2 separate regions of the Homo sapiens genome follow, and region 2 is linked to region 1. The links come from fine-mapping of genetic effects on gene expression. A gene starts in region 1. The other region holds a variant in brackets. All regions are shown on one strand. Distances are from middle to middle.

The links.
Region 2: its variant is fine-mapped to the expression of WBP2 in tibial artery (GTEx, PIP above 0.99).

What each region holds. Positions count from the first base shown.
Region 1 is chr17:75,853,334-75,857,722 of GRCh38, forward strand. WBP2 (WW domain binding protein 2) reads right to left here and starts at 2,002. Exons shown (of 8, transcript NM_012478.4): 1 at 1,906-2,002. The coding sequence starts at 1,964. RefSeq lists enhancers at 2,088-2,217, 2,826-3,621 and a silencer at 2,588-2,757.
Region 2 is chr17:75,669,074-75,673,462 of GRCh38, forward strand. SAP30BP (SAP30 binding protein) reads left to right here. Exons shown (of 11, transcript NM_013260.8): 3 at 2,743-2,790. Among named protein-coding and RNA genes, the nearest start is that of SAP30BP, 3.9 kb to the left of the region's middle. The variant C/T (reference allele first, on the strand shown) is at 2,472.

The sequences.
Region 1 (4,389 bases):
CCATGCCCAGCCTAATTATCAAATTTTGGACACTGGACTTAACACTTCAATTGTTATAGATACAACTTTTTCAGACAGCAGGCTGAAGCACTTTCTAAAACAGCAGGCTGAAGGCACACCTTACTTAGCAGGACTGAGCCCTAAGCCAGGTAGAAGGCCGAGCAGGATAGATACATTCTTGTCTCAGAAAGTTCCACAGAGACAGAAAGAAAAACAGTCCCCAGAGATGTTGCCAAATGGCACGAAAAGCTGGCCAGGCCTGGGAACTGACTCACACACAGAGATGCAACAAAACAGTGTGAGGTGTCTCTGATTACATGATAAAAAGGTTCACACGGTTCTGTTTGTCTTCTGCCTCCCCCCATATATCACAACTTTCTCTGACTGGGGAAGGGTAAGTGGGAAACAACTGGTATAAGCAAAGGAAAATGGCTGGGCGCGGTGGCTCACTCCTGTAATCCCAATACTTTGGGAGGCCGAGGAGGGTGGATCACGAGGTCAGGAGTTCGAGACCAGCCTGCCCAACATGGTGAAACCCTATGTCTACTAAAAATACAAAAAATTAGCTGGGTGTAGTGGCGGGTGCCTGTAATGCCAACTACTGGGGAGGCTGAGGCAGGATAATCGCTTGAACCCAGGAGGCGGAGGTTGCAGTGAGCTGAGATCGTGCCACTGCACTCCAGCCTGGGCGACAGAGCAAGCCTCCATCTAAAAAAAAAAAAAAAAAAAAAAAAAAAAGAGAAGAGAAGTACTGCTCAGAGAAAAGAAGGAATTACCAGCAACAGGCTGGGCCCATGAAACTCTGAGCGGGTAAGATAGAGGGAAAGTGAGCATGCTGGGTCACTCTAGGCATTTTCCTCTGACTCATCAAACATTCCCAAGTCACAGGGCAGCTGGATGCTGGCCTTAGCTGGGTACAGGGCTCTGACTCCACGATGTCTCCTTTGGGGACTCAGGTGCCTCCTAAGCTCCTTCTGCCTTCAAGAGGCAATTCAGGGTCGGCATAGTTCAACCCAGGGCTGGCTGGTCTGATTTTCAATACCCAAGGAACAAAAGGAGACAGAGGCCATTTAAGGCTTCTCTTGGCAGAGACTGGAGGAGAGACAGGATGCAATGAGCAAGGGGTGGGGAGGATGGAGTGGAAAGAACCTTGAATTAGGAGAGCTCTGCCTTCCGAGGTGACCCAAACCAACAGGCATTCAAGAGAGAGGCAAGGGAATGACTACGGACCCACACAGTGCCAGGAACTGTTAGACACCTGACAAACGTCATCTGTTTAATTTCACCTCTGGGACCTCAGTTTTTTACCGGGAACCTGAACAGTTCTGGAACATACTGGAAGCCTGTATGCTGGTGGTTAATCCTATTAACTTTGGAGTCAAGACTCCTTTCCTGGAATTACCACCTCTGTTACTTACACAGTTGCGATCTCGGGCAAGTTACTTAACCTTTCTGCCCTCCACTTTCCCTACCTGTGAAATGTGGACAGTAGTAGATTATACTGCACAGAATTTATTAAATAAGGTAGAAAAGGCGCAGAGCCTGACACGTAGTAACGTTGTAGACATCCAATAAGTGACAATTATTTTTGTTTGGGGCTCCTCCCAGCTACTGAAATCACAAGTCTGGGAAGGGGTTCAAGAATCACCCCTAGGCCCCACCGGGGGCCCCATACCAGGTCCCCATGCAGACGTCCCACCCCCGCCTCCCAGCTGATCACAACCTCCCGGGCTCTCCCCCACGGCCCACCCACCTTCCTCCAACCCCGCCCCCAGCCGTTCCCCACCAACCTCACTCCATCAGTGCTCCCTCTTCAGGGGCTTATTCCCCACCACCCACCACCCACCGCCCACTTCCTCGACACCCGAACTTTGGTCCTCCAGGATCCTTCCGCAGTGTTTTCACCTCTCGGTGTTATTGACGATCACTCCGCCGCCCTCCGAGTGATTCTTGTTGAGCGCCATAGTCTCTCCAACAGGGGTCCCGAGACTCAAAACGCAATGAGCTTGCGCCCCTCTTCGCCCCGCCCCTAGTGGCGTCTTCTTATTAGAGTCAGCCAATCAAAGCTCGAGTGCGGAGGCTGGCCCAAACACCTGACCCGAACGTCACGTGGTAATAGTTTACTCCCTCCTTCCAGTTCCTCCTGCGCAACAAACAAGATGAAGACTACAATTCCCAGCAGGCAACGCCCCCGCAGCCTCGGCCTGTCCCTATGCTGGAGGAAGGATGCATTCTGGAACTTGTAGTCTCCTGGATCATAGGCCTGAATTGGTTCCACATTTTGCGTAACCAATCGGCTTGTGCCATCCCCACCCCGCCTCTTCAGCCGGACGGAAATAAACAGTTCCGCTCCTGGCAGGGGCGCGATCTTGGGGACTCCGGCAGCGCGTTAAGGGAAGTCCTGCTGGTCGAATGCGACCTGGACATGGCGTGGGAGCGCCGAGCTGTCCCCTTGTGGATGGGGAGCTTTCGTTCACTCAGCAGACGTTTATGGGGCGCATGCGTGACTCTGGGGCGTTTAGCTGAGCCGGAGGCCCCGGCTCTTGGGGACGCGGTGGGCTGGCGGCGTCGGATCACCCCGCCATCCATCTCACCACTCCCAGCGCTGAGCCCGGGGGGCGGGGAGAGTCCCTCATGGGAAGGGGAGGCCGTGTGCCCCGCCTGGCTCCCACCACGTTCGCAGGCCGGCCGGGCGCCCCTCGCAGCCCCCTCTCCGGCCTCGCGGTGGCGCCGCTCCCCCCTTAGCGCCCAGCGGGGTCCCGGCCGGAAGACTGAAGGCTGAGTGGGACTGGGCACGGCGCGAAACCGGCATCCTGATAACTAGGATTTACAGAATAAGGCTGACTCCTGTCAGCTCGTGACCCAGCCCTGGGCGTCCTCCACGGGGCAGCTGTCATTCCCTAACCGCCCCCCACCAAACCCCTGCACCTCCGAGCTGAATCCGTGAGGCGGAGAGAGGGGGCTGCACTTCCCACGTGGTAGTTCCGGTACTCGTTAATGTTAAGGAATTAGAGTTTGCTTTTCAGTAGACAGCTGCTTTCCTGACTGTGGTGGCCAACCTCTAGATCCACCTGCTTGACTTCGCTTTCCAGGGAGGTCTCCTATGTGAAGAAACAAAGCTGCCTCACTAGAAAAGATCAGGAAACAGCAGCGTTCTGTGAGGTCCTGTGCAATACCAGGTTGGACCTTGCGGGACAAGTACAGTGGGTTAAGGATAGTCATAATGAAATCTGCCCCAATGGTTAGATGTATTTTGGCGCCTGCAATCTCTGCAGTCTTTAAAAAGAATTAAGTCAGACTATGTGCTGATATGGGAAGATCATCAAGGGTTATTAAGCACAGAATGCTGTATACATATAGTTGTATTTGTATAAAAAATAGGATCTAGATAGAAAATTTTTGCAAAGATCCATCAGAAAATGTCTGTGGCATTTTTGAGACATGGGTCTAGGAATTTGGGGTGGATTGGTGACTCGGTATGTCAGTATGCATTGTACTCTTTGGTACTGTTTAATTTTTTTTTCCTATGTGCGTTTAAAATATAAATTTAGGCCGGGCGCGTGGCTCACGCCTGTAATCCCAGCACTCTGGGAGGCCGAGGCGGGCGGATCACGAGGTCAGGAGATCGAGACCATCCTGGCTAACAGAGTGAAACCCCTTATTAAAAATACAAAAAAAAAAAAAAAATTAGCCGGACGTGGTGGCGGGCGGCTGTAGTCCCAGCTACTTGGGAGGCTGAGGCAGGAGAATGGCGTGAACCCGGGAGGCAGAGCTTGCAGTGATCTGAGATTGCGCCACTGCACTCCAGCCTGGGTGACAGAGTGAGACTCCATCTCAAAATAAAATAAAATAAAAATAAATAAATAATATGTAAATTTAAAAAAGAAAAGCAGGCCGGGGTTTGTGGCTCACGCCAAAGGCGTGAGCCAAATTCCAGCACTTTGGGAGGCCAAGGCAGGTGGATCACCTGAGGTCAGGAGTTCAAGACCAGCCTGGCCAACATGGTGAAACTCCATCTCTACTAAAAATACAAAAATTAGCCGGGCATGGTGGCGGGCACCTGTAATCCCAGCTACTCGGGAGGCTGAGGCAGGAGAATCGCTTGAACCTGGGAGGCAGATGTTACAGTGAGCCAAGATCATGCCACTGCATTCCAGCCTAGGCGACAGAGCAAGACTCCATCTCAGAAAAAAGAAAAAGAAAAGCAAAATCCAGGCCTGGTGCCGTGCCTGTAATCCCAGCACTTTGGGAGGCCAAGGTGGGTGGATCACTTGAGGCCAGGAGTTTGAGACCAGCCTGGACTACATGGCAAAATCCCATCTCTATAAAAATACAAAAATTAGGCCGGGCGCGGTGGCTCACACCTGTAATCCCAGCACTTTGGGAGGC
Region 2 (4,389 bases), 180 kb before region 1:
CTTTTCTTTTTTTTTTTTGAGATAGGGTCTCACTCTGCTGTCCAGATTGGAGTGCAGTGGTGTGATCATAGATAGTTCACTACAGTCTTGAACTCCTGGGCGCAAGTGATCCTCCCACCTCAGCCTACCCAGTAGCTGGGACTACAGGTGGGCGCCACCATGCCTAGCTAACCTATTATTATTTTTTTTTGTCGGAATCTTGCTCTGTCGCCCATGCTGGAGTGCAGTGGTGCGATCTCTGCTCACTGCAACCTCCACCTCCCAGGTTCAAGCAATTCTCCTGCCCTCAGCCTCCTGAGTAGCTGGGATTACAGACACCTGCCATCACGCCTGGCTAATTTTTGTATTTTTCACAGAGACGGTTTCACCATGTTGGCCATTCTGGTCTCTAACTCCTGACCTCAGGTGATCCACCCGCCTCATCCTTCCAAAGTGCTGGGATTACAGGCGTGAGCCACTGCTCCTGGCCGATTTTTAAAATTTAAAAAAAAATTTTTTGTAGAGACGTTGTTTCACTATGTTTCCCAGTCTGGTTTCAAACTTCTGGCCTCAAGCAATTCCCCTGCCTCACCCTCCCAAAGTGCTGGGATTACAGGTATGAGCCACCATCCCTGGCCTTCTTAACTTCTTTCTTGACATTTTATTTGGCACTTTTTATAATGGTGCCCTTAGTTCTTGATCACAAATCTTGCCTGAAGTTCAGTAGGTGCTGGAGAAAGGAGAACCTGTGCTATTATTAACAAGAAAGTCTTTAGACACATAATCACCTGAGCAACATGAGCCAGAATTTAAGTTTGCAGAAAACGCAAGGAAATTGAAGTTGGTGCTTAGCATAAGACAGGCAGAGTTGAGTCTAGATGTCAAATCTGACTGCTTAGCAAGTTTTAATTAAATCACTTAAAATATATTATTTGTTTGAAATTTTTGTTACATGTTGGTATGTAAATGTTAGCATTAAAATTCTTTCCAGCCAAGCACGGTGGCTCATGCCTGTAATCCCAGCACTTTGGGAGGCTGAGGTGGGCGGATCACAAGGTCAGGAGATCAAGACCATCTTGGCCAACATGGTGAAACCCCATCTCTACTAAAAATACAATAATTAGCAGGGCATGGTGGTACGCACCTGTAGTCCCACCTACTCGGGAGGCTGAGGCAGGAGAATCGCTTGAACCCGGGAGGCGGAGGTTGCAGTGAGCCGAGATCACGCCACTGCACTCCAGCCTGGGCAACAGAGCCAGACTCCATCTTAAAAAAAAAAAAAATTATTTCCACAACAAACAGAAATGCGTTTTGTACATGATGCATTTTGGGAGATACTTTCATGCCTTTAGCCCCATCCATTAATATTGATAATTCAGAGTTGACTGAAATTATTCAGAAAAGTTTTGCAAGTTGTTTTCTGACTTTTCTGAAGTACACACATTCTGGCTTAATATTCATAACTCTTTTCTTTAGTACGTTTGCATAATGTGTTTTTGAAGTGTTATTTCATATTTGCTTTGCTTAGAATTTTCATCATGTTTAAGCTTCATTTCATATTTTAGTAAAATCCTCTCATCAGATCTTGTTGTAGAGATTCTGAAATGTGATTGTATTTGTCTGAGCTCCATCTCTGTTTATTTGGCATGACTGATTTCATTTTAAGGAGATTATGGAGATTGCATTTAAAGCCTTGGACTCACTGGTACCTTACAGGACAGTTAAGTCTCCAAATCATGAGTCTAGTTTGTTCAAGTCTCTCGAGTGGTATTTATATTAATATATGGAGTGCTGTGTAATGTTTGGGCTGAAATGTAGCTTTGTTGAAAATAGTAGTTTCAAATGAAACCATTTTTTCCTGGGTATTTAGTTAAAGGCTTCTGTGCATTGGGAGTGTTCTGGGTAGTGGAGGTGACATGGATTTAGCCAGCTAATAAGGTAGCTGGTCCAGCATCTGCTCCTGATCTTTGACCTTCATAGCATCAGCGTTAGCGTTCAGTGGAATGGCGGGCTCGCTTTGGAGAATGCCTTACCGTGTGTGATCCTTTGTGTCAGGCTGACCTCATCTGGATAAGGAACAGGACTGGGTAGAATGGATCACTGGCAGTTCTGTGAGCACTTAGGTGGAGGCAGAGCCCACTCAACTGGGACTCCTGAAAGGTTGGGCATTGCCCTTTAGTCCTGCCTTTCCCAGGTCACTTGCTCAGGTAGTTTGATGCCTGCCTTCCTGTGTTGATGTTTGTGCAAATGCCGGTTGAGGTGCTGCGATACAGCTGTGTGTAAGCCTTGGCACTTGGTGTTGGACACTGTTAGAGTAGGTCCGAGTCTGATGTACATGTGTATATGAAAAGGAAAGAAGGCTCATAATCCTGATTTGAAATAACTGATACTTCAGTGGAAACACGATGCCTGTTTTATTGTGTGGCCTGATCTTACTCTTTCCTAAAACATATTGCAAGCTTTCTCCATTTTTATGTATGTGACTTTGAACT[C/T]GGGCATCTTCATTGATGTGGACTGTCTCACCACTAAAGTAACTTGACTTTGAGCTGCTGATGCTTTTTTGTTTTTTGTTTTTTTCCCCTCCAGAATATCTCTTTTTCCCCTTATTTTTCTCTGGTTCTGAGTTATATGGTAGGGGAGGGATTCTTGGTGGGATGACCCCAGCTGGGTAAATGGGCTGTTTGCTCCGGCCCCTAGTTATGCATGTGAGACTCCTCAGGCCCGCTCCTTTAAGCTTAATCCTCTAAATTCTTTGTCTTGTAGGAAGATGACGATTCAGAGACTGAAAAACCTGAGGCTGATGACCCAAAGGTATTTGGTGTTGGCTGTGGTGGGTGGCTGGATGCAAACAAGGTGTTTGAACACTGTGGCTCAGTTCGTATGTTTGGTCAAGATCTGTCCCACTGACAAACTGTGCAACTGTGTGGACATTTTCTGGGATAAAATAAGCTTTATAAAGAAAGAACCTGGAGACAACTCAGGAATGAACAAATCCTGAGACACATTGGATTTCCAGCCTTTCAGATTGTGCCATATCTCCTGACTAGAAAGGCGAGAGGCCTGGCTGAGGCCAACAACCCACTTGCATTCTGCATCCCAGATGGGGCTTTAAGTGTCACTGCCCTGCAGGTGGATTAGTCTGTTTCTAGACCCAGGAAGGTGTAAGGGCCGCCTCGCGTGCTTTGGGTTCTCTTTAGTCATCTAGAAGTGAACAAGAGGCTATAAGAAGGTCAGACCAAAATGAGGCCTCTCCCCAGCTCTCAGGGATGGTGGGTCTAATGCTCATTTTCCTGGGGGTGTGTCCATCCACTTTTGGGCAAGCTGTACAGAATGGTCTTTTTCGGAACAACATAACTATTCTCATAGTGTCATCCTAGTAGCAGCCAAGAGTAATTTGTAGCAATTCCTATCACATTCCATAATGATCTGTTGTGAAGGTTAAGACACCCTTGTGTTGGTTAAGCTGCTGTGCTGTGCATTGGCCATTAGAAATGTGTACTTGCTGAAGAGTCATTTTTTATGAGGAAAAACTTCCCCCCTGTACCCCCAAAGAAAAAGACTTAATTATATCACTCTAGACCCGGGGAATAAGGACCCATTTTGCAGTTAAAAACTGCTTTGAGGCCAGCCGCAGTAGCTCACGCCTGTAATCCCAGCACTTTGGGAGGCTGAGGCGGGAGGATCACTTGAGGTCAGGAGTTCAAGACCAGCCTGGCCAGTATGGTGAAACCCCGTCTCTACTAAAAATACAAAAATTAACTGGTGAGACTGGTGGGTGGTGCACACCTGTGATCCCAGCTACTGGGGAAGCTGAGGCAGGGGAATTACTTGAACCTGGGAGGCAGAGGTTGCAGTGAGCCATGATCTGCCAATGCACTCCAACCTGGGCAACAGAATGAGAATCTGTCTCAAAAAAAAAAACAAAAAAAAACTGCTTGGAAACCAGCTGTAACTTTCAAGATGACCTAGTAAAATTTAGGAAATTTATGCCCAATTAAAATCTAAAACAGTAATATTCTTGAAAATATAGTGTGAGCTGTTCCATATTTGAGCTGATTCTGTGATTGGATAGAACTGTATGTAGCCACTAAAATCTTGAGACGTTGTGAGTGAGAAAGATAAGAGTGTGTTTTACCAGGAAAGAAAGTTTTGGCGCCAGCATGCAGGAGGGAAAAAAAAGAACCCCTGAAAACTGTAAATGCAACCTGCTTTCTATGCTGAGTGAAAAACCTGGAACCCAGGCCTGAGAACTCGCCCTGCCTGAGAACTGGCAAGATGGTATGGGCAGACCCATGGCCCCATAGTTCAAAGTCAGTCACAGCTCTCCTCGGGCTTGCAGAACAAAACACTCAGTAGTGATAATCTTCTCTGCCTAGTATTTAGGGTATGTGGGACTTGGAGCCTGCACGT